Regions from separate parts of the Homo sapiens genome. Here all the other regions are reported to be linked to region 1. The links are microRNA targets in miRTarBase. Many come from high-throughput screens and were not tested one by one. Region 1 holds a microRNA gene; each other region holds the end of a gene's coding sequence.

The links. Region 1 holds the annotated microRNA hsa-miR-935 (CCAGUUACCGCUUCCGCUACCGC, at 3,647-3,669, opposite strand). A microRNA usually pairs through its seed, bases 2 to 8, with sites in the 3' UTR of a target mRNA and lowers its output. Matches are read on the target gene's strand: a 7mer-m8 pairs with bases 2 to 8, a 7mer-A1 pairs with bases 2 to 7 and ends in A, and an 8mer does both.
Region 2: miRTarBase lists LCOR as a target of hsa-miR-935. The part of its 3' UTR that is shown has no 7-base or 8-base seed match.
Region 3: the mRNA of SF1 is a reported target of hsa-miR-935. The part of its 3' UTR that is shown has no 7-base or 8-base seed match.
Region 4: miRTarBase lists LMF1 as a target of hsa-miR-935. The part of its 3' UTR that is shown has no 7-base or 8-base seed match.

The regions. Positions count from the first base shown.
Region 1 is chr19:53,978,748-53,986,030 of GRCh38, reverse strand. It overlaps MIR935 (microRNA 935), which reads right to left and starts at 3,724; the gene lies at 3,634-3,724. It overlaps CACNG8 (calcium voltage-gated channel auxiliary subunit gamma 8), which reads right to left. Exons shown (of 4, transcript NM_031895.6): 3 at 6,024-6,164; 4 at 1-3,951. The coding sequence ends at 3,182. RefSeq lists an enhancer at 5,516-6,048.
Region 2 is chr10:96,984,505-96,991,504 of GRCh38, forward strand. LCOR (ligand dependent nuclear receptor corepressor) reads left to right here. Exons shown (of 8, transcript NM_001346516.2): 8 at 1-7,000. The coding sequence ends at 630. Among named protein-coding and RNA genes, the nearest start is that of SLIT1-AS1, 110 kb to the right of the region's middle. RefSeq lists enhancers at 1-241, 242-741, 308-437.
Region 3 is chr11:64,759,682-64,767,017 of GRCh38, reverse strand. It overlaps SF1 (splicing factor 1), which reads left to right. Exons shown (of 13, transcript NM_004630.4): 12 at 1-118; 13 at 863-2,412. The coding sequence ends at 1,200. It overlaps PYGM (glycogen phosphorylase, muscle associated), which reads left to right and starts at 7,044. Exons shown (of 20, transcript NM_005609.4): 1 at 7,044-7,336. The coding sequence starts at 7,120. RefSeq lists enhancers at 1-408, 409-1,281, 1,282-2,156, 3,081-3,130, 3,181-3,280 and 6 more.
Region 4 is chr16:848,666-856,001 of GRCh38, forward strand. LMF1 (lipase maturation factor 1) reads right to left here. Exons shown (of 11, transcript NM_022773.4): 11 at 4,969-6,041. The coding sequence ends at 5,867. Among named protein-coding and RNA genes, the nearest start is that of GNG13, 52 kb to the left of the region's middle.

The sequences.
Region 1 (7,283 bases):
TGGTCTCTCCTGCTCTCCCCCTCCCTCCCCATCTTGCTCTTCCTCCTGCCTACCCTCAACCTCATTCTTTCTCTCTCTCTCTCTCTCTCTCTCGTTCTGTTTGGCCTTCAGACTCTAGAATCCATTCTCCCCTAACCAGTTCCCTCTCCCTCTTCCAGCAAATATTTGCTGTCTCTCAATTTTTTTTTTTTTTTTGAGACAGAGTCTCGCTCTTTCGCCCAGGCTGGAGCGCAGTGGTGCCATCACGGGTCACTGCAGCCTCACCCTCCCAGGCCCAAGCGAGATCCTTTCACCTCAGCCTCCTGAGTAGCCGGGACTACAGGCGTGCACCACCACACCCGGCTAATTTTTGTATTTTTGGTAGAGACAAGATTTCAATATGTTGGCTGGTCTGGAACTCCTGAGCTCAATCTGCCTGCCTCAGTCTCCCAAAGTGCTGGGATTAGGAGCCACAGCACCCGGCCAGATTTGTCTCTTTTAACACCCGCTCCGGCATCCCTCTTCTCTCCACGTATCCGTCTCTCTCACTCAGCGCTTCTCCGTCTCACTGATTTGTATTCCTTTTCCTACATTTCCCAGCATCTCTTCCTGAAACCGCCTTGGCAGAATTCTTCCTAGGGACCTTCAGTCTCTCTCTTCCTGGTCCTTCCACACAGGCCTCGGAGAGAAATTCTGAACACCCAGCTCTGATCTGTACCCTTCCGTCAAGAGAAGGGCACGCAGAGCCCCTGGCAGCATGGCACCACCGCTGCCACGTCCTCCTCAAGCTGCGTCTGTGCCTGTTTTCCCGCCAGACTGGGAGCCCCTTGAGAGCAGGGCAAGATCAAAATCACCTCTCCACTCCCAGCACCGCCCAGCACAAGGCTTCGGGGGAGGCCTCAGGAAACACTTGCTGAGCAAATATGGAAGGGAAGCCTACTGGGCGCTGTCCCCTCTGCCTTCTCAGTGAACTTCAAACCCATCCCCTCCAATCACCGCACAGCCCTTGCCCCCGCGCAGCTGTCATCCTCTCTCACCATCCTTAGAAGAGCCTCAGTCCCTCTGCCTGGAACTCAGGCACCTTTTTCTCTTTTTTTCTGAGACAGGATCTCAGTCTGTTGCTCAGGCTGGAGTGTAGTGCCGCGATCCTAGCTCACTGCAGCCTCGAACTCTTGGAGTCAAATGGTCCTCCTCCCTCAGCCTCCTGAGTAGCTGTGTCCACAGGTGTGCTCCACCACGCCCGGCTAATTTTTTTTAATGTTTTGTAGAGACAGGGTTTCGCCATGTTATCCAGGCTGGTCTCAAACTCCTGGGCTCAAGTGATACTCCAGCCTCAGCCTCCCAAAGCGCTGGGATTACAGGCATGAGCCACCGCGCCCGGCCACCCTGGTACCTTTACACTCTAGCTTGTGGCTACTTTCCCGGCCTCATCTCCCAGCCCCACCTTGTACATCAGCATCCCAGAACTGTTAGCACTGACCCCAATACATCATGCTCGTTCACTTCCTCCCGTTTTCACCCAAGTTGTTCTTTGGCCCCACAAGCCTTTCTCATGCCTTTCATCAACCAGAAGATGCCCACTCATTTCTTCAAGACCCAGAATGGGCATCATATTCTCCAGGAAGCCTACCCCAAGTGCTGCTCACTCCTGGCAGTTGGTCACTCTGTCCACCGTGTGCCACGGTACCCACGGTGGTCCGGGTTCCAGCACCGATTGCCCTGCCTGGATGGCGGTGTTTGATGACAATAAACTGCTTGAGAGCAGGGCTAGAGTCTGTTTCACCCCTGGGGATCTGGATCCTAACACACTTCCTGGTACCTTAGCAGATGGCCAAAAATGGCAATGGGTGAGTGGCTGAATGAACGAGTGACAGACACATGAGTCTCTAAGCCCCACGGCTTTCTCCTGCACACCAGACACCATGACTATGCTTCAGCATCTGTGTAATTACGTGCTTCCTCCCACAAGAGTGTGAGCTCCAAGGGCCCGTGCCCATGTTTGATGCTGTATTTCAGCACATCTCTGCCTCCTACTCTTGCCTCCGAGTTCCTGTCTTCCCTTTGTACACCATTCACGTTAGCGTCCTGCTTAAACCCGTTCCACGGCCCTCACCACTCCTAGAATAAAATCTGAACTCCTGACCTACGAGCCCCTGCACAATCTGGCCCTGTCTGTGTCTCCGGCCTCACCTTGATCCCCGCTCACCTGCCTCACTACCCTTCAGCCCTCGCTGCAAGCTCCTTCCTGCCCCGGGGCCTTTGCACGTGCTGCTCTGCCTGCCACACTCCTGCCCCAGCTCCGCCCTGCTGGCTTCTTCTCATCCTTTCACTGTCCACTGAAATCTCTTCCTCACAACTGGGTTAGGCTCCCCTGATGGAGCATTTCATAGCATCTCGTTTCTCCTATAGCCTAACTGTAATTTATTGTGTATGTACATGATCGATTAATGCCTGTCTCATGCACAAGATGTTTACTCTATGAGACGTCGGGGCCCCTGGCTGTTTTCCTGCCTCCTGCACGCTGAGCACGGAGCACAATGCCTAGCTTTTTAAGGCGCACAAATAAATTGCCGGTAATGAATGAATGAATGAGAAGGCCCTTTCTGTGCCTCGTTCGTGTCCCCTGCTCCAATGCCTTCTTATGTACCAGTGCCTGGTACACAGTAGGTGCTTAATAAGCCCTTGTGGAATAATGAATGAAAAAAATGAATGAATGCCCGCGTCCAACCCTTCTTTCTGCCTTTCTGCATCCCTTCGCTGTGTCTCTTTATATAGGGCATATATATAGTTTGTGGGTGTAACTATGTATTCGTGTATTATGGGCCCCTCTCCAGGAGTTGGGCTGGGCTGGGAGTCCCTCCCTCCCCTCCCCCCGCCCCGCCCCCCATGCACACAGCAAAACATGAAAAAGAAAACATCTCGAAACTGCAAAAAACACCATGGCCCTCCCCCCTCCCCATAGATCCCCCAAAAAAATAAAACACGACGCTCCCTCACAGCGGCCCCCTCCCTCCCCTGCCCCCTCCCTCGGGGTCCCTGCTTCGGAGGGGGAGGGGGGCGGGGAGGGTGGGCGTGGGGCGGGCCCAGCAGTCTCCAGCGCGCTCACGGGGGAAAGCGGGGGCGCCCCCGACCCCGGCAGCCTCGATGCACGCGCGCCCGCGCACGCGCCCCGGACACGCCCCTCGGCTCCCCCGCCGCGCCCCTACACAGGCGTGGTTTTCCTGTTGAGCGTGTTGGTGTTGGAGGCGGCGGCCTCCTTGGCCAGGGTCCCGGGGGCGGGCGCAGAGGGCGCGGGTGGCGCGGGCGCGGGCGGGGCGGGCGGCCCGGTGACCGTGACCGTGACGCCGCCGCCCGCCTCCTTGGGGAAGGCGTTGTGCAGCGTGAGGAAGCCGGACGCCCCCCCGCGGTCCCGCTCGGCACCCGCCCCGCCGCCGCCTCCGCCGCCGCCCCCGGCGCCCCCGGCCGCGCCGCCGAACGCCCCCACGGCGCCGCCGCCGCCGCCGCCGGCCCCCGCCAGCCCCGCGGCCACGCTGCCCTTGGAGGGGTCGCGGCTGAGCGTGTACATGGAGATGTCCGTGGAGGCAAAGCCCGGGCCCCCGGGGCCGCCGGGAGACGCGTCCCGCGACGGCGACGGCTCGCTGGAGCGGGAGCTAGAGCGGGAGCGGCGGCGGTAGCGGAAGCGGTAACTGGGCAGACGGAGGATGGCCGAGGGGCCGCTCCCGCCACTGCCGCCCGCGCCCCCGCCGGCCTTGAGCAGGTCCGAGCGAGACTGGCAGTGCGCCTCGCGGCTGCGCTCGATGTAGATGTTGACGGCCAGCACGCCTATCACCTCGGCCAGGATGAACGACAGCCCGCCGAAGTAGAAGGACCAGCCGTACGAGTAGTGGTTTTTCTTCTCCTCGTCCCGCTTCGGGCCCGGCTCGCCCGCGTTGGCGGAGATGTACACGATCACGCCGATGATGTTGCTCAGGCCTGGGCGGGGACGGTCAGACGGGAGCCTCGAGGCCACCCCCGGCCCCGCCCCCGCCCCCGGCCCCGACCCCTGCCCGCCTGCGCCAGCGGGCCCAGGCGCCACCCCCAGGCGGTCTAGGCCCCACCCCGAGTGGTCTAGACCCCCGTCCTGGATCTGGCTGACCCAAGTCCTGCCAGAAGTGAACACAACTCCCCGCCCGATGCTCTAGGCGCTTCCCTGCTGGTCTAAGCTCCAACCCAGAGGGCTCCGGCCCACTCTTAGCTGGCCCAGGCCTCACCTCTGCTGGTCTAATCCAACCCCGGCTGGTCGAAACTCCATCCCCCAGGTGGTGTAGGGCCGCCAATGGTCCAGACTGCATCATGCGTGGTCCTGGCCCAGGCAGGCTCAAGCACCCCCTCAGATGGTCTAAATTCCACCCCCAGGTGGTCCAGGCCCTGCCCTGAATGGTCCAGACACGGCCCTGGATGGTCCAGGTCCTGCCCCCAGATAGCCCACGGCCCACCTCTGCCGGTCTAACCCAGCCCTGGCTGGTCTAAACTCTGCCCCAGGTGGTCTAGGACCCACCCCCAGATGGTCTGGGCTGCCCCCACATGGCATAAACCCCACTCCTCTAGCTAAGGTCCCAACTCTGCTGGTCTAAACCCCACCCTGGCTGGTGGTAACTCCACCCCAAGCGGTCCAGGCCCCACCCCTAGGTGGCCTAAGCCCCACTCCCAGCGAGTCCAGGCCCTGCCCTGACTGGTCTAAAACCCACCTTTGATGAGATGAGTTTCCAGGCCCTGCCCTAGTTAGTCTACCTCCACCCTTAACGTTATAAACCTGGGTTTTTCCCAAGCCTCATCCCTCTGCTCCTTTGAACTCTGTTAATGATGTCATCCTGCTGTGATCAGGCCCTGCCTTTCACTTATCTAATCTCTCTTCATATAATTCCTGCCGGAGTATCCATTCTAGGCCCTCCCCTACTGGTCAAAAATTTGCCTTTAATAAAGCAGGCCCCGCCTTCTACTCTAGGCCCCACCTCCAGCTTACCAAACCCCGCCCCGTGCGGATCTTGGCCAGGGTCCTTGCCGGTCTCGGGTCCTTGCCGGTCTCAGGTCCAGCTACTCCGGCCTTTCAGATCCTCCAAGCCCCACCCCTTGCAGATCTAGACCCATCCCCAAAGCACACCCTGCTCTTCAAATATGCAAAGCCCTCCCTCTTCTCTGTATTCTACTCCTCCAAAAAAGCTCTGCCCCTGGAATTTCCCAATGCTACTCATACGGGGTAGAAAGGGGGCCTTACCCCTTAATTGCGTGCCTCTTAAGTGTTCCAGTCCTAGCTCTCTGCTCGTCTAGGCCCTAGCTCTTGAGACGGCCAATCCCAGGTACTGACTGGCTTTGGTCGGCCTCTTGCTTCAATCAGCCAGGTTGATTCTCTGTGCCCTTAAGGACATAACCCCTCCCCCTTTGGCTTTTCCAGGCATCGCCCCGTCTTTTCTAGCCTCTCCTTCTCCAAATGGCCACGGGCAAGGGCCGATTCAGTCTCCCTTACCCAGCCCCTTTAGTTTCCACTTCCCGGCCCTGGACGGTTTCCCAGGACCAGCCCCCTCTTGGATCCACCAAAGTCTCCAAAGGCCCGCCCCTTAAAGCAGGCTCCTCATCGGCGCTCAGATCACTTTCTACCTCTCCTGGGCCCGCCCTCCAAGACCCAGCCCCGCCTCTCTATCCTCAAGAGCCCAATTGTGTCTCAAGGTCCCACCCCCTCCCCAGCTCCTCCCCTTCCGTCTCCAGGACGGCGGGCTTGGGATCCTAAGCGCCCGGCGTCTTACGCGCCAGACACCTGCCTGTGTCGGTTTACTCCTCCGAAGGCGACGCGAGAACTACACCCACCTTACCCAGCGGGTGGCGATGGAGCTTGGGGACCGCCTAGGAAGGCTCCGGGCCCCCGGGGGTGCTCGGGGCAAGGTGGCTTTGCAGACACACGAACGCGCACTTGCACTCACGCGCGCGCGCGCACACACACACACACACACACACACACACGTGCGCGCCCAGGTGGGCCGCCCCGGTCGCCCCCTCCCTCTGCCTCTCACCTGCTGCCACGAACAGGATCCCTGCGCCCAGAATGATGTTCCTCTTGGACTTGTAGACGCGGGAGGCCGCCACGCACACACCCCCGAGCAGCAGCAGGATGGCGCTAAGGATGGGGAAGATGCTGGAGGCCCGGACAACTCCTGCGGGGGAGGAAGGAAAGGAAAAGGAGGGAGAGCGAGGGCGGTCAGACGCGGCCGCCTGCGCCCCCTTCCCGGCCCCCCATCTCGCGGCGCCTCCCGACAGTTCTGTGATTCTCTCTCTCCGGCTGTGTTCTGGTTTATTTTACTGTTGCCTCATTCTCTCTCCTGTTTTTAAAATTTCTCTATTTCTCGGTCTGATTTTCTCTCCCTCTTTTTCTTTGTCCTTTTCTTTTTTCTTCGGACTATTTTTCTCTCTCTTGGAATATCTTTCCCCCTCTTTATTTATCGAAATCACTCTCCCTGTTTTTCTCCCAACTTCTCCATGGATCCTCTCCCTTTCTCTTTCTCGTCCCTTCCTTCCTCTCGTCTGCGAATTTCTTTCTCCATATCCCGCAAATCACTTACTACCTCTCTCCACACCCCCTCCCATTTTCTGCCTCGCTTCATCTATCTGGGTTTCTCTCTCTCTCTACATTCCTTCCTTCCTCCTCCTCCTCCCGTTTCTGCCAGGCTGAATCTACTTCTGAGTTTCTCTTCCCTTCTTCTCCTCACGCCCCCACCCCACCCAGTTTTATTGCTGGCTTCATCTATCTTTCTGGCTCTGTCTCCCCTCTCTCCTCTTATCTGCTTGGCCTCGTATGTCTTCATAGGTCCCCCCCCACCCCGCTTTTTCTGCCTGGCCTCATCTGTCTTCCTAAGTCTCTCTCCCACTTTTTCTCCCTGGCCTCATCTGTCTTCCTAGCCACCCCCACCCACAACTTTTTCTGTCTGGCTTCACCTATCTTCCTAGGTCTCTCCCCCCTCTTTTTTTTTCTGCCTGGCCTCATCTGTCTTCCTAGGTCTTTCCCCACCCCACCCCACCCCACCCCTTTTTTCGCCTGGCCTCCTCTATCTTCCTGGGTCTCTCTCTCCCCTCCTTTTCTGCCTGGTTTCTTCAATCTTCCAGGTTTCTCTTCTCTTCACTCCCTTCCTCTCCCTTCCTCCTTCCCTCCCTCCCTACCCCCTTTAGGCCTGACTTCGTCTATCTCTCTTTCTCCCTCTTTTCCTCCCTCCCTTCTTCCCCTTATCTCTCTCTCCCCGCCCCCACTCCCCGCCCCGCCCTCCTCTTTTTCTCTGCAG
Region 2 (7,000 bases), not on the chromosome of region 1:
GTATGCATCAACCCTCTGATGTCCCCCAAGCTTGCCCTGCAAGTGGATGCAGATGGGTTTCCTGTTAAGCCCAAGAGTACTGAAGGAATGAAGGGAAGGAAGGGGAAGCAGGTGTCTGAAATCTTGCCTAAAGCAGAAGTTCAGAGTAAACGCAAGAGAACAGAAGGCAGCAGCCCTCCAGATAGTAAGAACAAGGGGCCTACGGTGAAAGCCAGCAAAGAAAAGCATGCTGATGGAGCCACCAAAACCCCTGCTGCCAAGAGGCCAGCTGCAAGGGACAGAAGCAGCCAACCCCCCAAAAAGACGTCTTTGAAAGAGAATAAAGTGAAGATCCCTAAAAAGTCCGCTGGGAAGAGCTGCCCTCCCTCCAGGAAAGAAAAAGAGAATACAAACAAAAGGCCTTCCCAGTCTATTGCCTCGGAAACACTGACGAAACCTGCAAAACAGAAGGGGGCCGGTGAATCCTCTTCAAGGCCTCAGAAAGCCACGAATAGGAAGCAGAGTAGTGGAAAGACTCGGGCCAGACCCTCAACGAAAACCCCAGAGAGCAGTGCAGCTCAGAGAAAGCGAAAGCTGAAGGCAAAGCTGGACTGTTCGCACAGCAAACGGAGGCGGCTGGATGCAAAGTGATTGGAAAGATGGTAGCCAAGAGTAAAACTGTTCTATAGAAGTAACCTTTTATTTTGCATTAACTAAATCTGCTTTTATAAGCTTATCAAGCCTTTCAAATTTACAGTTAATGGAGAACACCGTAATTTGAGATGTCAGAAAATGCATCTCAGATGGAGAAGGGAACTTGCAGAGTCCTTCTCTGAGGCTAAGGGAAGTTATATATTATATTCTGGTTGTTCCTTGGGTTTTAAACTTGGAACCAAGCAGTTTTCGTTTTTAAAAGTACAGTGCCTTATTTATCCTTTTTGTTTTTAAATTTACAAAAGCTAAAAAGCTGATCTATGTGATTAAAGGCTTGTATTTTATACTTGATGCACAAGCACTTGTACTGTAGCCGAGAAGACCACCATCATGCACATAAAAGGAGCTTTTCAGCAGCCACCCTGCAGCATCTGCCCACGAACAGATGCCCTTCTTTGCAAACCCCAGCAGTGAACTTCCCTCTCTGTCTTGTTTGTTTGTTTAGATGATGTTTGAAAGCTAAACCAAATCATTTTATGGTATGCAGAGGATTTATAATTATAAAAGATTACTATTTCTGTTACCCCCTTTTAAAAAAGATCATGTTCATTGTTGGTCCCTCCTCTCACCTTTGATGTTTTGTCATTTGAGAGCATGTATTCTAAATTATGTGCCCATGGGACAAGAGATATGTCACAAGTGTTAATTTTTGTTTACAAACTCTAAAAAATCATTTGCATCCCCAAACTGTATTACTAATTCTCACCATCTTCTTCATTTCTGGTCTTGCTAGCACTCCTGCAAGGCTTCCATCCTACTTCGGGAGGAAAAAGCCTAGGATTTTTTTTTTCCATCTTGTAGCTGTAATTTGATGATTAGGATGAAAATGACTCTTATTTTCTTTCTTACCCAGAGTACTTCCATATTCAAAGAAAGCCGAACTATTATTTCCAGTAATAGAAAGGTTTAAGAATATGTATGTCCATGTGTGTTTGGGTGCATTTGCATGTGGTTATCAGCCACAAATGTCTCCCAATCCCAATTTTACAGTAAAATTTTTTCCCTATGCAGTGTGCTTGGGTGTCCCTGAGTTGAGTAATTAGCAAAGGACAGATGGTTTAAAAGTAGCCCAGTGTCTCTGTGAGCATCCCCAATACCACTTTGGTACCAGACTCAGAAAGATCTAAAACAGCATGGAGTTATGTAAAGGTTAGAGCAGCCTTGCAGTTGGAGGAAGCAGCTCCAGCATCTGTGAAGAGCCCACACACCCCCTACACCCAGAGCTGATGTTCAGCTGTATGCTCCAATGTGAATGTACTTGTTGGAGTAGACGTTCATTCTGATTGATTAACACCATCCTAGTAGTTAAATGCTTGTAGTATCACTCCTGCCATGTCATGTCAGGCTCTATTCCGTGTCTCAGAAGTGAGAGCCACAATGTTTTAATGACTTTGTTTGCCTTTCCCAGGTGAAGCCTGAGACAGGCGCATTGGCTTCAACCTAGTGCCTGTGACCTTGCTCCATTATTATAGTGCAGCGTGTACTTGACTTTTCCATTGGGCCGCTCTACAAAAAAAGGCTTGGTTGTTGAAGCCTCAGTCAGCTTCCTTAACCGGTTCTGTCACCAAAATCAGCTTGTATGGACAGCTGCTGCCCTGTCCTTTTTATTTGAAAATTTTCCATTTAGGTTGTTTCAGATCTCTTTAGATAAGCCCAGATGGACTTTTTTCATGCAAATCATGATAATACAGGCCTTCTACCCATTCTGTTAAAGGTTTGCTGTATATCATGGGAACTTCTGATGATTGGATAAGACTGGAGAAAAGTATTTGATTTGTGAGAAATTTAGAATTGTGTTGAATTTCATAGCTAGAGAAGCTTGCTGTCTTATGAAGCCCTGATTTTTTTTCATGTCTTCTCTATCTGATGAGTCTTTTTCTTTTTAGTATCTTTGACTTTGGCCATTCAAGAGCTACCTACATTAATAAAACTGCTGAGTGTGTATGTTGGCAACCCTTTCTCAGCATTAAGTTGCACAGAGGCATTAATGTGTTTTGAATAGGTTCATTTAATCTTAAAAAATGGTTTTAAGGTTTTAAAAATGTCTTTTCATATAGTTGTCACTGGATATTGTGTTTGTGGTGACTTAAACAGCTGATGTTTGCCAATGTCAGGCATGCTGATTCCTGTACAGAAGAGGTGCCCCGTTGGCTGCATACCGACTACCTTGTAAGGTGCTTGGATTAGGTTAGGGAGAGGTGTAAGGTAGTAAGTGGGTGGAACTTTTCCAGTTCCAAGTTTGTAATTCATTCCATTCCTTTTCTAAGTTCTTTTTCATTTTTAAAAGCTCAGTTAAAGATAATAGCCTTCTTTCCCATTCTAGGCTGTGTGTGAGAAAAGGTGTTAATGTGTATGTATGTATTTTATATACCTAACAATGCAATGGATCATCTTTAAAATCAACTTATACTTTATAATAAGGACATTTAAATAGACCAAGAGTCTACATAATTATGACACTTAAAAGTTTAGAATTTTTTATATTTGTTGAATCTCATTTTTGCTGATTCAGTTAATTTTGTTAATAGAAGAAAGAAAACAGCAAAACTTGAGGGCTAATCCTGCAAGGCCCTTTGATACCTACAGCAGGTACTGGCAAAGCAGTTTCCCAGATACCTCCAAGCTCAGGTGTGGTATTGACTCAAGTCTGCTATTGTTTTCCCTACCTTGCAAAAACCTTCTTCCCAGAGCCATCTTCAAGAATGGCTTACCACACCAGATGCAAAAGCAGTCCATCCCACATTCCGATCCAAATCAGAAAGGAATTCTCCTGGGTGTACACTCAGTGAAATGACTGTTCCAGTCTTGGGGCTGAAGTTGATGACCAAAGGACACTGGTATTCTCTGAGTTTCTGGAGAAGCTGGAAGATGCCTGGGAAGCAATCACTGAAGCTCTGCCATAGCTCCCGTAGAGGAGGGCCCTCTTCAGGACACCCATCTTCTATCCTACGAGACTCCCTGCTATAGATGGACATGCAGGAGACCACTCCCTCACTTGGGGTCCTGAGCCTCACCCCTAGCACTTCCTCAGACAGGTAACAATCTTGCAGCACAGCAGGAAGGTTGTGAACCTTTATTCTGCTCCTGAGGCTTCCTTCATAGGAATGCTGTCAGTTTCTGTAAGTCACCAGTCACTAGCCCCTTGGATTCCTTGTTAAAGACTTCTGTGCAGCCTTATCTAAAATGATAATCTTAGGCTGTGAGTCTCCTGCTGTATTGTTCCTAAAATCGTATGGATAGAAGAGGTGCCCTTAGTCATCCCTTTACATATGTGGTGCTTTCTAATGGGATCTCTATGCATCACATACTATGCAGGTGAATTTCTCACTGTTCAGATAGGTCATCAGTAAAAGGCATCACTTCAAGATAATTACTTTGAATTGAGGTTTGGCCTCTTTTCCTGCTTTGTAATGGGTTCGGTCATGAGGGTGGGAGCTGTCATTCACATTTATGGGCAGCATTCCTGTTGATTAGTGGACCTAAGAGCCAAGTAGGAAAATATAGCATGCTATGTGATACAAGCTGGAGATGCTGTAGTGTTACTATCAGCAAGTTCTGTGCAGACTGCCTTTCGGATTCCAGATGATCTGTCAAGGGTCTGCCAACTGTGGGCTGGTCGCTTGTTTGTGTAAATAAAATGTGTTTGGAATATAGCCACACCCATTTTCTTAAGTTCTGTCTGCGGCTGCTTTCGCACTGCAAGAGCAGAGTTGAGTAGCTGCGGCAGAGACCCGTGTGGCCCTTACAGCCTAAGATACTATCTGGACCTTCAGAAAACATCTGCTGATCCCTGCTTGAGAAAGTCATCCTTTTCAGGAACAAATATTCTTGATTTTCCTTCTCTCTTCTGCCCTTTTCTCTCTGTTCTTCTTTACTTCTCATTTTCCTTGTCTCCATTTTTTCTTTTCAAAGGAGACATGTTATATCGATATGCACTACTATCCCCTTAAACTTGAGCAACCTTAGCATTCCATCTTCTTAAAAAAAACCATCACAGTAGCCAAAATGAGGCCACCTTACCGTATCGAGCCGGAACCCATGAGCAAATAGGGATTCAGAGTTCTAAAATTATGTGGCCTGGGCCTCTCATTTCACTCACACAGAACTGACTCTGGCTTTATTTCTTGTTTATTAAAGTAAGCCAAGATTTTGTTTCTGGTAAAATTAGTTGAGACTACTTTAGTTGGACTTTTAGTCCTCTGAATGTCACATTTAGATATGGAAAATGTTTTTTCACAGAGTAGAAACAAAGTCTGATCACAATCCCAAAGCTTTGTTTATTCTTATATAATATTTTGGTACTGATACCTTTTCAGCCACATACTTTCAAAATAATTTTATTAAAGGTAAGCCAACAAATAAAACATAGAGGCTTTTGAAGTGCTTTAATATTGATTTAAAAAATTGGAGTTATAACCAGAGTATGACTGAAAAGCTATTATAGTCTTCCTCCTTTTCCAAAAACTCAAGGATAAGGATATATATATATATATATATATTTTTTTTTTTTTTTTTTTTTTTTAATAGAGACGAGGTTACGCTATGTTGCCGAGGCTGATCTGAAACTCCTGGCCTCAAGCAGTGCTCCCACCTCAGCCTCCCAAAGTGCTGGGATTACAAGTGAGCCACCGCACCAACCCAAGTATGAGTTTCTATGCTGGTTTTTTTTTAATGTGATTCAATGTCCTGTCAGTGAAAAATTTTTGTCAGTGGCCCCAAATCACTGATCGTTTTAGTTGTTTTGAAACAATTATCATTTTGAATTCTTAGTATTACTTTGATGTCTTATTGTGACTTGATATCCACTGAAATACTGGAATTTTTTTTAAGTATAAAATTGATCTGTGTAAGGCGGTCTTCATATCCTAGCAGTAAGTGCTATTCCCCATGCTTGCTCTCAAATCCTTTTCAGGGGAAAAATAAAAAGATTATTGTATTTAAAACGAGCAGAATTGTGGGAGGGCCTTCCCCTCCCCCTGCCCAGCCCCCAGACAGGGTCTCACTCTGTCGCCCCAGGCTGGAGTGCAATGGGCATATGGTCTTATCTATTAGGGTATGTAGTTTAAAAGTACAGTTTTTTGAAAGTATAGTCATCTTCATTTTTATGACGCCCACTGCAGGCTCAAAGAGATTTTCACACCTCAGCCTCCTGAGTAGCTGGGACTACAGGTGCATGCCACCACACCCAGTTAATTTTTTTTTTTTTTCCAGTTTTAGCAGAAATGAGGTCTCACTGTGTTGCCCAGACTGGGAAGTCTTTTGAGGCAGCCTTCAATATAATTCATCCTTTGAAACATCAGAACAGAGTCCTGTATTCTACAATGGATGGATTGGAAGACTTGAGGATCCAGTCTCTTTCCTTTATAGATAATTAGACTCAGGCAGAAACTCAGAGCTCTCAGGGCTTTGCTGTGCTGTGCTGTGTCATGCCGTCCTGGGGCCCGGGGAACCACCCTGAGCACTTTGTGGAGTGTGTCCTTGCTCAGGCTTTTGCCTTGGGATTGAACCGAAGCTGCTCAGTTCCTTCCACTTACCTCCTCTCTGTCTGATCTTCCTTTTCCCAGAGCCTCAGTGCTTGATGCTCAGTGCTCAGGAGATGTCCTTTGCTCCATCCTTCAGAGGGGCAGTTGTGTAGTTATGCTGCCGGGTGAGCACAGACACACATACTTTCTCCCCTAGCTGGGACCATCCCACACGGGGTGCTCAATATGCATGCCTCATGAAAGCATAGACTGTCCATTTAAAAAAAAATCAGGTACTCATGGTATTACAATATGCCAGGGGTTGGACAAATGGATTTTTTACCCTTTTTTAAAGGGTTATGTAAAAAAAAAAAAAAAAAAAAAAAGCAACTATATGTGGCCCGCATAGCCTGAAATATTTACTTCCTGACCCTTTTGTGGAAAAGCTCTACTGATCCTTATAGTAGTCATTAAAGATCAAATTGTGTAGACAGGCACAACTTTTTTTTTTCATATGCTCCAACATTTTTTTCATACAGTCCAGCAATTCTTTTAGATTTTAGAGTGTCTTGCCTGTTCATCTCAGTACACAGCTGCTGTTACAGATTATTCCTGAATAATGCTTTTGCGTTAAGAAAAATTATCCCCCTTTGCCAGTTGTCTACTTGTTAATAAGTTGTGGGCCATGTGATCATATCTATTAGGGTATGTAGTGAAAACTAAAAGTGCAGTCTTTAAAAGTACAGTCTTCATTTTTATGAATCAGAGTGAACTTGACTGTGGTAGACATTCCATTAACAGCAGTTCAGCACAAACAAATTACTCATGAACTTAAAGCCAAGAAT
Region 3 (7,336 bases), not on the chromosome of region 1:
CCCCCACCCCCTCCCTCTGGTCCTCTTCCCCCATGGCAACAACAGCAGCAGCAGCCTCCGCCACCCCCTCCGCCCAGCAGCAGTATGGCTTCCAGTACCCCCTTGCCATGGCAGCAAAGTGAGTAGAATATTTTGGGCTTGTGGGGGTGGGTGGGATGGGGGTGGGGCTGACAGGAACCATAGAGCCTCACACAAGCAGGCAGGTGTCTTGGGATGAGCCCCTGGGCTCTGCTGGGGTTGTAAACAGAAAGGGCCTCCTGGTCCAGGGGGTGGAGGGGCATCTTGAAGAGGAGAGCTGATGTTTGGTGTGGTTGTGTCTGGGGAGAGGTTCGTGGGGGCCTGGAGGGGAGCCTGCTATTGTAGGTAGGGGGCCAGAAGTCCAGACCCTCGCAGGCTGAGTGAGCGGCTGGCTGGACTGAGCCTGGTGCATATGGGTCGAGTGGGATGGTGCATGCTTGCTCTGGCAAGGGCTGCGATTGGGGTGAGAGACTGCAGAGGTGGGACTGGGCAGTGGGGAGACAGCAGCTGTGGCCTTGAGGTTGAATGTGCCGTTCGGTGGTGGCGGCGGCTGGGCGGAGGGACATCAGAGCTGTTCTTGTGTCTGGTACCTTCCCCTCAGCCCTTCCAGGGGCATTGGTGACAAAGGGCTTACTCTGTTAAGCCCAGAGACCTCGAGGCTGACCCCAGGGTAGTCCTGCCCACCCCTCCACTCCCCATCACCAGCCCCGCCCACCCGCCCCCCACCACCGTACCGCATGCCAAGCAAGGAGCAGGCGCCCCTCGCCCCCATCCCAAGGCAGCAGCCGCAGACAGCCGCGGTGTGCCCCCGCGCGTGTGACCTTGGGCTTCTTTACCACCCCAGATACGACGACTACCACCACGAGCGCTGGCACAGGGTCCATCCCGCCATGGCAACAGCAGCAGGCGGCTGCCGCAGCTTCTCCAGGAGCCCCTCAGATGCAAGGCAACCCCACTATGGTGCCCCTGCCCCCCGGGGTCCAGCCGCCTCTGCCGCCTGGGGCCCCTCCCCCTCCGCCGCCTCCACCGCCTGGTTCCGCCGGCATGATGTATGCCCCGCCCCCTCCTCCTCCGCCTCCCATGGACCCTTCTAACTTTGTCACCATGATGGGCATGGGGGTGGCGGGCATGCCGCCCTTCGGGATGCCTCCAGCTCCCCCACCGCCTCCACCACAGAACTAGACTTGTTTTTTAAGAAAATATATATTATATATAGAGAGAATTGGTCTCGTTTAAACACGCCGAACCTCACCATATGGAGCCAGACATTGGGACGCACGCATGTGATTGTGTGTGCACGCATGTGTGTGTGTGCACGCACTGGGCTGGGCCAAGCGACTGAGGATTCGCTTGGGAACGGGCAGGTGGTAGTAGGGGCGCCAGCTTGGGCTCTCCTGGCGCCCCGTAGCATCGAGTGTCTTCTTTGTCTTCTTTCTCTCCTCACCCAACTCCCTTTGCCTCTCCCCAAACCGGGCCGCCAGGATCCCTCCCCGCGGCGGCGATGGCCCGAGCCATGAGAGTGAGGACTTTCCGCGCCCATTGGTGACCCTTCCAGGCAGACAGCCTCAGCAACGCCCCTGGTGGACAGGATGGTTCGGCAAAGCAGCCTGAGTTATTTTTGTGGACGGAATCGGAACACGCTGGCTCCATATCGTGAAATTTTTATTAATTTTTTTCTTTTTCCTTTGTTACTTCTTTATCTTTTCCTTTCTTCAGACTCCGTCCAAGGAGATGCTCTCCCCGGTCTTCTGCTGCAATTTAGATTCCTTTCCCTTCTCTCCAGTTCTCCTTCCCTTACCAAGGAGAGGGGAGCAAATGGTTTTGGGCAAGGGCTTTGGCCATTCATGTCAAGCTGGTTGTGGGTTTTTCAAGGTGCCATAGCCACCCCCAAAGATGTTTGTTTAAAGCGTGGGGTTTTTTAATCTCTGCCACCCTTGTCAAGGGAGTCTTGTAAAGTTGCCGAGGGTAGGTTCATCTCCAGGTTTCGGGATTCCCATCCGTCCTGGCGATCCTGCCAGCAGTGGGTGGGCAGCCTGAGCTCCCTCGGGCTCGCCTGCCAGCCTGGAGTTCTTCCTGTGCTCCTTGATCACCTGAGCTGCCTCAGATTCCATTTGGTCCTCTCCTTCCTGGAAGGCTTCCTTTTATGTTTTGTTTTAATCCCAAATGTCTGAATGTTTTGCAGTGTGTAGGGGTTTGAGCCCCTTGTTCATTCTCCTTCCTTTTTCCTCCCGCTTCCCTCTCCATGAAGTGATTCTGTTGACAATAATGTATACTGCGCGTTCTCTTCACTGGTTTATCTGCAGAAATTTCTCTGGGCTTTTTTCGGTGTTAGATTCAACACTGCGCTAAAGCGGGGATGTTCCATTGAATAAAAGAGCAGTGTGGTTTTCTGGGTCTGCTTCTTTATTTTCTTTTTAATGCCTGCCCCGCCCGGTTTTTCTTTTCACATAAACTTCCTCTACCACCAGCAGCAGCAGCAGCACCAAAGGTGCCTTAACTTTCGTTCAGCACCAGGTCCGGGGGGGTGAGACTGTGGGTGGTTAATTAGGGAAGCCCACCACCTGCCTCCTGTGTGTGGCTTTGGTGGTGGGAGCTCAGTGTGTGGGTGGCTCCACAGTCTCCCCTTTGGTGACTAGTTAACATCGCTGAGAACCAATTTTGCCCCTCCTTGTTCACTGCTCATTTTTCTAGTCTCTGTCCTTTGAAGGCTTTTTCCTGGGGCTCAGACGTCCACGTTTGATGAGCTCCAGTGGTGATTTGTGCCTGGAAGCTGCCACCTAAGGCCCTGGGCCTGGGGAGGCATCAACACTAAAGGTCAAGCCAACTAATCCTGCCTGTCAGGCACAGAGCAGCTAAAATTAAAACCGCCAAGTGGCTTTTTTCCTTCTCTGCTGGTGACTTGCAGCCTGCCAGCGCTGTAGGCTTTGGCGGGGGTCGGGGGGACAGGATAAAGTGCCCCATCTTGTGCTTTGCAAGCACTTTTCAAAGGGTCTTCTGCTTTTTTTCCATGTCTTGGGCGGCGAGTGGGTAGTTACTGTTAGGGTTCCAGAAAAATCCATGTGGAGTCTCCACCAGGTAGTGAGGTCCTCTCCTGGGCAGAGGTGCCTTAGAGCTGCCCTGGTTCCACCTGCCTCTCCTTCCTTCAGGGCGGCTGAGGGACAGTAGGCTCCCCCAGCATCTGGCTGCTGGGGCCAGCAACTGGCCTGGGCTGCTTTCCAGCTGTGAGCTAGGGCTGGCTACTGCTGTTTACTGGGGTGTCTGGTCCCCCGTCCAGGAGGCCTGTGCTTTGCTATGGGTCTGCCAGGCTTGAGGAGCCCTCAGAAGCAAGGCAGGCTCAGTGCGTTTCCCCAGCCAAGCCCTAAACTTCGGCTCACCAAAAGGAGGACATCTTTTTTGCCTTTGTCCTTAAGTGGCAGAATGGGGGCAGGGCCTGGGGCCTGGCTACCCTCTTTGACCTTGGCTTCACCTCATTGCTTCTCCCACAAGCTTGGTTTCCCTGGTGGGCTCATTGGGTGGTTAATTAGCTCTTTGAAGCTCTGGAAGCGGCAAAGTGGCGCTATGTGGGTTTTAGAAATAAAATCAATAAATGACTTAACCACAGCTTAGCTATCTCCTCCGCTTCTCTCCCCCAGGCCAGCTCCATTCCTGTGCTCCCTCCCTTTCTGCTCCCTGCCGTCAGCTTTTGTTAAGGTTTTGGAGAGGAAGTGGCTGACTAAGGCATCAGTCTCCAAGGTGCTAGAGGCCCTGAAATGGAAGAGACAGCAGGAAGGCTTGGCCCTCTGAACCGTGGCAAGCACTTGCCTCTGGCAGAATCAGAGAGAGAAAGGCCTGCCCACCTGTCTTAAGACACCTGGGGTGGGAAAGCAAGCCATTTACTCCATCACATTGTGACAGGGCTGTGCTTGCCCCACCCCCTCTCCTCACGTTCATTTCTGCTGCTGTAGCAGCACTGTCCCCGTCCCTCAAGGCCTGGCAAGGCCTGGCAAGAGGAATGCCAGTGGGGAAAGGTCAGCCTCAGGGCTCTGTTACTGAGGTTCAGCCAAGGGCTCTGGAGAAACCCAGGATTGGTCCAAGGAAGGAGGCCGGGTTTCTAGTTAGAAACTTAGACATAAATAACCTCGAGTGAGTTCAGGTTGTAAAAGTGCTTCAGGGTTCATTAAACCTGCATACACAACACCAAGGAGGGGCGGAGGAAGCAGGGAAACAGATGAGATCGTGCTGCCCAGGTGTGATCATGCTGGGCTGGGGCATGCAGTGTCACCCCGGGACAAAGCCTGGAAACAGTGGGGAGTGATGGCATGACAAAGACGGAAAGAAGCCACAGAAAAGGTAGTTGGAGAAAGTTAAAAATTTCCCAGTAAAAATGTTCCTGAGAGCAAGCGCCCTGGGTGCAAGAGGGGAGAGTAGCTGGGAAAGGATGGAATGAACTTGGCCTTCCCTGCCTGTAAGATGTGGATGGTCTATGGGGATCGGGTCCTCAGTGGCAGGAACATAAAGTCTTGCAGGAAATAGGGGTCAATGCAAAGAAGGTGTGTGTGGCCAAAGCAGGCTGCCACGATTGGGCTGTGAGGTGACGGCATGGTTAACAAGCTACTGCCTGCCTGGCAGTGGACTGCCAAGAAGTCTCAGCTCTACTCACAGCAACCCTCCAAGGGACAAGTGCGGGCTGTGAAGAACCTTGGATGCCAGGCCAAGCTGGAGTCCAAGCTGTGCTTAGTGGAGGATGGGGATGAGGCCCAGGAGCTGAGGCTGGGGTGCAAACTGTGAAAGGGGAAGAGACCAGACAGCTGCCAGCATTGTTTTTTTGTTTGTTTTTGAGACAGAGTCTCGCTGTGTCGCCCAGGCTGGTGTGCAGTGGCGTGATCTCGGCTCACTGCAACCTCTGCCTCCCGGGCTCAAGTGATTCTCCTGCCTCAGCCTCCCGAGTAGCTAGGATTACAGGCATGTGCCACCATGCTTGGCTAATATTTGTATTTTTAGTAGAGACGGGGTTTCGCCATGTTGATCAGGCTGGTCTCGAACTCCTGACCTCAGGTGATCCACCCACCTCGGCCTCAAAGTGCTAGGATTACAGGCGTGAGCCACCGCGCCCGGCCAGCATTGTTTTTTAATGGTTTATGAAACACTTCTTAAGAGAAATTGGAAATTAACAGAAAAATGTAAGGAAAAGTTGTTTGCATCCCCGTGTCTGTGGAGGTGTATTTTGGTGTTTTTTTCCCGATCTTTTTTCTCTACTTGGAAATGTGGCAGGCACCACAGAAGACAGTGTGCCCGTGCCTTTTGGGGGCAGGGGTAGAGCAGGGCTTGGGAGCCTGGAGACCTCTGTAGGACTTGAAGTTTGGCCCACATACTAAGCCGGTGATTCCAGGGCTGGGTCTGCCATGGCTCAGAAAGTGATCGGAGGCCGGGCGCTGTGGCTCATGCCTGTAATCCCAGCATTTTGGGAGGCCAAGGTGGGCGGATCACCTCAGGTCAGGAGTTCCAGACCAGCCTGGTCCAACATGGTGAAACCCCGTCTCTACTAAAAATACAAAACTTAGCTGGGCATGGTGGTGGGTGCCTGTAATCCCAGCTACTCAGGAGGCTGAGGCAGAATTGCTTGAGCCCAGGAGGCGGAGGTTGCAGTGAGCTGAGATCATGCCATTGCACTCTAGCCTGGGCGACAAGAATGAAACTCTACCTCAAAAAAAAAAAAAAAAAAGTTCTCAGAAACAGCTTGGCTTTCTCCGAACCAGGCTCTCAATAGTATCCTGCAGCTGTCCAGGCTTTTGACCTGCTTCCTTGGCCTTCAGAACAGAACACCCAGCTCTTCCCCTCCACCGGCCCACCACCCGGGAGGCCCAAACAGCCTTTGAACTAGCACAAGGTCCTGGTTCCTTTCTCTTAAAGAACAGCAGGATCCGAAGCCTGCCCTCACAAGATGAGGAGGCAGCAGCTGAGAGGCAGGGATTTTTTTTTTTCTCATTGGAGAGTCTAAATTTGGTGAAGGAATCCAAAGCTCAGAAAGGTAAAGCAACCAGCTTGAGGTCACACAGCAAGTCAGTGCTGGGGCCAGAACACAGCAGTGAATGGGAGGATAGCCAAAGCCTCCAGGGAAGGGCTCAAAGCTGTGGGGCTATGCACACAAATGGGGTGAGGTCCTCGAGGTACAGATTAGGCACCCATTTTATAGGCCAGGTCACAGAGCTGGTTTACAAAATCCTGCTCAGAGTGTGGCCCCAGGTGGCAGGAAGAAGTGAAAGAAGGCCTCTAATCACTTCCTAAGCAGTGGAATCACAGGGAGAACTTACTGTCATTAAACCAGTATGATGATGGAGTGGGGAATGCCTCAGTTTCTCCCACCGCCGAGGGCCTATAGGACTACAGTTCCCAGGGCCCCGTGCTGCAGGCTAGCGGCCTCCCGCCAATGCTGGCCAGTAACCTGAGCATCCCTCTCCAAAAGGTCACTTCAGGGCTCCTTGAGGGACAGCAACAGGGGGAGCCTAGAGCTGCTCAGCTTCGGTGGGGGTGGAGTGAGGGCTGTGGCCCTGCCTCACACAACCTCCCTCACACCACCCCTGCAATGCAGGGTCGTGGGCCCCTTTCTCAAAGACATCCAGTGGCCTCTGCTAGTTGCACCTCTTCCGTCAGGGGACACTGACTTGGCTCCTGCACCACAGCCTGCAGGGGGTCCTGGTTCCTTTTGCCACAACACATGGCCTCCCATCCTGGTTCAGCCACTGACAGACAGCTCCCCAATCCAGCACTCTGCCTGCTCCTTCTTGTATCCAACCCTCCAAAAGGCAGGGACAAGGGACAGAAGACCATGTGCAAGGCCTGGAGGAAGTGGGTCAGCACAGGCCTGTGAACAAGCCAGGCCAGTCTTGGCGGCCCAAGTGGAGCTCACCTCTCCCTCCCCTCTCCTCTCCTCCCCTTGCCCTCAAAATAGCTCCCTGAGCTGCCAGGCCAAGACCCTCCCATTGCAGGGGAGGCGGGGCGTGCTGCCCAGAGCCAGGCTTTAAATCCCCTTGAGGCTGGGGAGCTCCACTCCTTGGCTGGAGGCAGTGCTGAGGCCGCCGTCCCCTCTACCATCAGTCCAGTCCGGCCCGCCCTCCTGCAGCCATGTCCCGGCCCCTGTCAGACCAAGAGAAAAGAAAGCAAATCAGTGTGCGTGGCCTGGCCGGCGTGGAGAACGTGACTGAGCTGAAAAAGAACTTCAACCGGCACCTGCATTTCACACTCGTAAAGGACCGCAATGTGGCCACCCCACGAGACTACTACTTTGCTCTGGCCCATACCGTGCGCGACCACCTCGTGGGGCGCTGGATCCGCACGCAGC
Region 4 (7,336 bases), not on the chromosome of region 1:
ATCACCCGCCAGAGAACCTTCTGGACCTGTGAGCCGTCATGCCCGCTCTCCCTGTTCCTGCCAGCAGCCCCGAGAGCCGTCCACCTTCTCCCTGCCCAGCGTCTCTGTGGGTTTCCCTGTTCTGGACATTCCAGAGACGGCATCGCAGGACCGGTGCCCTCTGTGTCTGGCGGGTTCACTGGGCATCAGGTTCTCAAGGCTCATCTGAGCGTCGGGGCCTCGCTCCTCTTTGCGGCTGCGTAATGCTCATGGGTGAGCACACCTGGTCTGTTCATCTGGGCTGTCCCCACCTCTGGGCTGCTGCAAACGTTCCGGTGCAAGCACACCCAGGTCCCCGTTTCCCGCTCTCCCGGGTCTACATGCAGATGTGGAGTTGCGGGGTCACGTGGTTCCCGTTTCTAGCTCTCCCAGGTCTACGTGCAGACGTGGAGTTGCGGGGTCACGTGGTCCCCGTTTCTAGCTCTCCCGGGTCTCCGTGCAGACGTGGAGTTGCGGGGTCACGTGGTCGCCGTTTCTAGCTCTCCCGGGTCTACGTGCAGACGTGGAGTTGCGGGGTCATGTGGTCATCCGTCTACACTGAACATTTCGAGGAACCCCCAGACAGTCTCCACGTGGCCACATCATTCTGATGCATGGCAGACGAGCCCGAAAGAGGAGCTTAGTCCCAGAGGGTTCTTGGCTTTGCCCAGGAAAGAATTCAAGGTCGAGCCAGAGGTGGAAGGAAACAGCTTTACTTCAGAGGTGGGGTTACAGCTGTGGCTGCTCCCGCAGGGCAGGGCTTCCACAGACAGCAGCCCGGGGCAGCTCTGCAGTCTCACTTATAGCCACAGTTTTTTTTTTTAAAGACAGAATATTACTCTATTGCCCAGGCTGGAGTGCAGTGGTACGGTCTCAGCTCACTGCAACATCTGCCTCCCGGGTTCAAGCGATTCTTCTGCCTCAGCCTCCCGAGTAGCTGGGACTACAGGTGCCTGCCACGCCAGGCTAATTTTTGTATTTTTGGCACAGACGGGGTTTCACTATGTTGGCCAGGCTGGTCTCAAACTCCTGACTTCAGGTGATCCGCCTGCCTTGGCCTCCCAAAGTGCTGGGATTACAGGTGTGAGCCACTGTACCCGGCCAGAAATGTCAAATTTTGATGAAGTCCAATTTATTTTCTGTGTTGTTGCCGGTGCTGTTGTTGTCATATCCAAGAAAACACTGCCAAATCCAATGTCCTTAAGATTTTCCCAGGTTTTATTCTGAGTCTTACAGTTTTAGCTCTTACATTTAGGTGTTTCATCCTATGTTTTTTGGGTTAATTTTTGTGTATGCTGTTAGGTAAGGGGCCAGCTTCATTCATTATTTTGCATGTGGAGATAAAGCTTTCCCAGTACCATTTGCTGAAAAGGCTGTCCTCTTCCCATTGAATGGTCTCAGAGCCTTTGTCGGAAGGTACCAGGCCACGTGTGGGACAATTTCTTGGGTCATTCTCATCGGAAGGTACCTGGTTGTTCTCGTTGGAAGGTGCCTGGTTGTTCTTGTCGGAAGACACCTGGTTGTCCTCGTTGGAAGGTACCTGGCTGCGTGTGGGACGATTTCTTGGGTCGTTGTTGTCAGAAGGTACCTGGTTGCATGTGTGGAATGATTTCTCGGGTTGTTCTCATCGGAAGGTACCTGGTTGTTCTCATCGGAAGGTACTGGTTGTTCTCGTTGGAAGGTATGTGGCCGTGTGTGGGATGATTTCTCGGGTTGTTCTCATTGGAAGGTACGTGGCTGCATGTGGGACAATTTCTCGGGTCATTTTCGTCGGAAGGTACCTGGTTGTTCTTGTCGGAAGGTACCTGGTCGTTCTCGTTGGACGGTACCTGGCCGCGTGGGGGATGATTTCTGTGGTTGTTGTTGTCAGAAGGTACCTGGTTGCATGTGTGGAATGATTTCTCGGGTTGTTCTTGTCGGAAGGTACCTAGTTCTCGTCGGAAGGTATGTGGCCGTGTGTGGGATGATTTCTCGGGTTGTTGTCATTGGAAGGTACGTGGCTGCGTGTGGGACGATTTCTCGGGCTGTTCTCGTCAGAGGTACCTGGCCGCATGCGTGGGACGATTTCTCAGGTTGTTCTCATTGGAAGGTACCTGGCCACGTGTGTGGGACGATTTATTGGGTTGTTCTCGTCGGATGGTACTTGGCCACATGTGGGACGATTTCTCTGGCCGTTCTCGTCAGAAGGTACCTAGCCGTGTGTAGGACGATTTCTCGGGTTCTTGTCGGACGGTACCTGGCCGCATGTGGGATGATTTCTCGGGTTGTTCTCATCGGACAGTACCTGGCCGTGTGTGTGGGACGATTTCTCGTGTTGTTCTCATTGGGCGGTACCTGGCCGCATGTGGGACGATTTCTCGGGTGGTTACTGTGCCCCGTTTATCTCTAGGTCTCCATGCTGCTGTGATACTGTTTTGACGAGGGAGCTTTCTTTTCTGCCACTGTGGGCCAGCTGCTGCCGTCTGTGGTATTCTTGTGTGTTGCTGATCTGAAGCTCCAAAGCTGCCATTCTCCCAAACCTTCCTGCTCAGATGAGGACCTGGGCAGTCTGAGACCTCCAAGCTGCAGTGAGAATGGCTGAGGGCCTGACCCAGCCAGGGAGGCTGCTCTGGGGACTCCAGGGTGCCTCTCCCTTCCCCCAGGCCCACAGTTGACCCAGCAGACCCACACTGAGGGCCTGGTGCGGGACTGGGGCAGCTTAGTGTCAGGGCGCAGAGCAGGCCCTGGAGAGCCAGGGGGTTGCCGTGTGGGCGCTGGCACTGGTTGCTAGTGTAAAGGCCCCACGGCCCTGACCACACAGGGACCCCAGACGTTTGGGGGAGATGGGCTCAGTGTGGTGAGGCCTTGGGACTATCTGCCAAAGACAGATGAGGTGAGGGGAACCCAGCCTTGGAAGGGTCAGGTGTGACAGACTCTGGGTCTGCAGAGGGTGCAGGCTCCACTCCAGCCGAGGCTGTCACAACCCGACCTCAGGTCACCTGTCCGCCCCAGGTGAGTGGACGTCTCTGGGAACCTGGATCCAGAGACTGGACCCCCACCATTAGGGCTCCTCTGCCTGCCAGCTGAGGGGGTCTCCCTGAGCAGGGCTGGACACTCACGGGTCAGAGCCAAGGGCTCCATGGAGTGGGCCCTCGAGGCCCCCAGCTGGGTCCAGGGGCCCCCCTATTTTTGTGACCTTGGTGGGGTACCCAGAGGTGGTAGCAGACCTGCCTTCCACAGTGACAGGCCCCCGAGGCTGGCCGAGATGGGGAGGGCAGATCACACCATGACTCCCACCCCGAGCACCCCTTCAGATGCCCAGGCCTCCGCCCCCAGGGGACTTCCTGACCACAGGCATCGGCCTGACACGTGTCGGGGCCACTGGCCCCATTGCCCCACACCGGCAGGTGGGACCCTCCGTCACACAGAACACAGGCAGCCGGGGGCTGGGCGTCTCGCACAGACTCTGTGGAGAGTTCAGACGTGAGGGAAGAAGCTGACATGCCCGATGGGAGGGCTGAGGCCCGTGATTCCGTTTATATGAAGGGTCCCGAACAGGGACCCACAGAGGCATGAGATGGATTCCCTGGGGCTAGAGGCTCTGTCTGGAAGATGGAAATGGGCTGGATGGAGGGGAGGTGGATGCACGGCCTCGGGAGCGCACTCCACACCACAAACTGTTCGCTTAATGACGGCCCTGGTCCACTTCATGCTGTGTGACTTGACCCCACATGCCCTGTGACCCCACCCCCAGGTCCCCTGGGAAGTCACAGCTGCCATCCCCAACGGAGGATGAGGGTGTCTGCTCCAGGGCTCTTGCAGGCCCTTCCCGTGGTCCCAGGACAGTGCTGCGGAGTCTCTGGGCTGTGGGTCCCATGAACGGGGTGCCCAGTCACTACTGCTGTGGGCTCCTGCCCTGCCCCCCTTGACCAGGACCTGCAGCCCCACTACGGGGTCCCCGGGAGACCAGTGGTGCACAGCTGCCCTGGGACAAGAGGAGCCTGGAGCGGGGTGAAGGAGCCCGGGAGGAGGGGCTGTGGGATTCGGGACCCACTACGGGGAGGACAGCCGCACGGGAGGGTTCCGGGCAGGGGGCATGGAGGGCTGTTGGCTCCTCAGGTCTCCCCCTTGCAGAGGCTGGGCAGGGGCACCCCGTGGCACCAGCCTTTCCCAGGCGATGGGTCCCTCGGGTTCCCACAACTGCCGCTGCCTGAGATGTCCGCCCCTGAGCTGTGCCACAGGGCTGGGCCCCACCAACAGCAGAGTCCCTGGGACAGCCCCCCGGGAAGGGCCGCCCAGGCCCCTGTGGCCGACAGCTCCGCGTGGTCGCTCCGGCAGACTTGCTGGCTCCTGGTGCGTCCCTCTGAGGCCCTGTCTGTCCCTCCACAGACACAGGGCGCCCTGTTTCCCCGGGAGCTGGAACACGGGCCCTCTGTTGGCACCTGGGCTGGCTGTCCCCCCCGGGCAGGCCGAGGGGGGGCTCCACACAGACCCACACTGTGCCTACCGCAGCCGCCCTCCTCGGCCTGAACCACCGTGTTGTCCCCACTGGGGCCCCCCACAGTGGCTCAGCCGTGGGCATCATGGCTCCAGGTGCCGTGGATGGAGGCAGGGGGAAGGGGTGGGTGGGGGAACCGCCCCCCCAGGCTGGGGGAGAGGGGAGGGCCTCTGTCCTATGGTGGGGCCCACTTCTGACTTCTCCCAGGACCCAGCCTCACAGCGTCCTGGGTGGGGGACGTTGCCCCAGAGCTTTGCCTCCTTCCGGCAGGGCTGGCACCCCTGCTCATTCCCATTTACTCCAAGTATTGCCGCAGCAGACACTGGAAGGGTCGCCAGGCAAAGCACCACCCATTCACCTCTCCATCAAGCTCCCGCTCGGTCACCCGCTGCCCCAGCATCAGAGTGTGGGCTGGGGGCACGGCCACCGCCAAGGGGAGGGAGGTACAAGAACTTCTTCATTTAAACAGTGTGTTTTCGAGTAAGCTGGTAAGTGGTATAATAGGAATAGTAGAAGAATATGCCATAGCTATGGCTCAAGAATAGGAATAAGAAAAATGTGCAGTAGACGCTGTTTGTCCGACGATGATGAAAGTGTGCACGGCCGGCTGTCCTCCGATTGAGGGGCCTTGTCAAGGCCTCAGAGGCAGCGAGGTCACAGCCTGGTGGAGGGTCTGGGTGTGCGCTGTGTCCATCTGCACCTCACAGACACCAGTCATGGGGGGATGAAACCGGGCCAAGAACACATGTGTGCACAGGCTGTGTGTGCCTGCATGTGTGGGATGCGTGTAGGCTGTGGCGGGGGTGGAGATGAGGGATAGGACAGAAAATGGCCCATCCAACCCCACATCCTGGCCGGGCGTGTCCAGGTCCCTGTGGGGCGAGGGTTTGGCTGCCCCAGACGTGACAGGGACTTGGCTCTGAGGGTCAGGACCTGGCTGGGAACACACCATTGAAGAGGGAACAGAAACCAGGCCCTGGGACGCTAGAGACCCCAAGAGCTACCTGGCTGGGTCTATGGTCAGGGCTGTAGTGGAGGAAGGTGTCAGGATGGCCATTGTCTCAACTCCTGTGGGCGGCACAGCCCCAGGCTGGGCCTCTGGGAGGAGGGTGGGATGGATGGGAGATCAGAGCCCCTGGCGCCTGGGACAAGGGTTGGCCTGGATGTGGGGCCCCAGGTGGGCAGGGCCTGGGAGCCGCCACAGTATGTGACAACAGACCCCACCCTGGACCCCCGTGCTGGGGGCTGGGTCCCACCGCTCTCCTCTCCACGTCTCTCTTGGCGATGCCCAGCTTGGGCTGGGCGCAGGGAAGGGCAAACGTTGCTGAGCCGCCGAGGGGCTGGGTCTTCGCCTTTATTTCTGGTGCACGTCTAGAGGGGCCCGGGCAGAGGCCACCCACGGTCCCTGAAGTAGGGCCTCAGCTCCTCCAGGCTGAGCGGAGGGAAGTAGGCTCCGATCCTCTTCCGCACCCACCACTTGCCCTCGGCGGCGTGCCTGCCCCCAGGACGGCTGAACTTGTACCTGTAGTGCTCTCCTCGGACCCACCTGCAAGGGGGCACATGTCAGCCCAGGGCCTGCTGGGACTCCCGGCCCCCGACCCGGCTCCTCAGCCTGCTGCTGAGCTGCAGCTGCTCACAGGGTCCCCCACGGACAGAGGGGCTGCATGAGGAGCCCCCACCCTGAGCACAGGTAGACCCCCAGCAGACCCCGGGCAGGGCAACTGTTCCAGTCGGCACCCTCAGCAGTGAACAGCGCAGCAAGGGGGAAGGGCGGACGGGGGGCAGCTCCGGGAGGGGAGACCCAGCAGGGCCCACTTGGCAGAGGGACCGGCCCGGGGAAGGCCAGGAGCTTCACGGGTGGCACTGAGCAAGCCTGAGACCGTTCACAAGGCCCCAGTTTGAGCCCCAAGTGTCCCCCGCCTGGGAAGGTGGGGAGAGGAACCTACTGCTCATGGTGTGGCGTCTCCACCATCAGGCCAGTCCTGGCGCAAGGTGCCTGGGGGTTTCGGTCCACGGGGCAGTCCGAGGCTGTGAGGGAGCCAGGCCGGGACCTGTTTCCTGAGGGCGGAGCCTCTGCTTCCCAGGGCTTCAGGCCCTTCCCTGCCTGAGACGTGCAGATGCTGGCTGGCTGCTCTCCTCTGTCATGCCCGAGTGGGATGAAGGCCCCCACCCCCATCTCCCCTGGAGCAGGGTAGCGGGCAGGTCTCTCTGCTGAGCCCTGTATAAGGTCCCGCCTGACCCCTGGTGACCAGGCCTGGTTTAGGCCATACTGGGTCTTGGTCCCTGGCTGGCAAGCCCTCACTGGACTCTCGGAGGACTGGGCATTTTCTCCTGGGGGTGGGACGAAGCCCCCTCATGTCCAGGGTTGCTCGGCTGCCCCGGAGGAGGAGGCGCCAGGAGGAATTGTCACCGTCACAAGCTCCCGGCCCTCCAGGCCCCTTCGCAGTTGTGCAGCAGGAGCGGAAGCTTCTCAGCCCACAGGGCGGCTGCTGCCTGGCTGGGATCCATGGCAGAGCTGGGCCCCAGCTGCCCGGTGGGTGTGATGGTGCAGCCATAACAGGACCCTCTCATGGCCCCTGGAATGAGCCCAGGCAGGTGCCAGAGGCTTCACACTGCACCAGGGCCCGGTAGCGACTGTCTGGGCTGCTGTCATTATTTGGGGCTTCTGGTGACCTGCACACAGCTGTGCTCTGGGGGCTGGGGGTGGAGACCTTGGGCCATGCCCCTTAGGCTGGCAGGGTGAGGGCCTCTGGGTCCACCCGGCTCCTCCTGGCTTTGAGTCTCTTTGGGTCTGGGTGTGTGATGGATGATGATTCTTCTCTCCCCAAGTCTGAATTACGC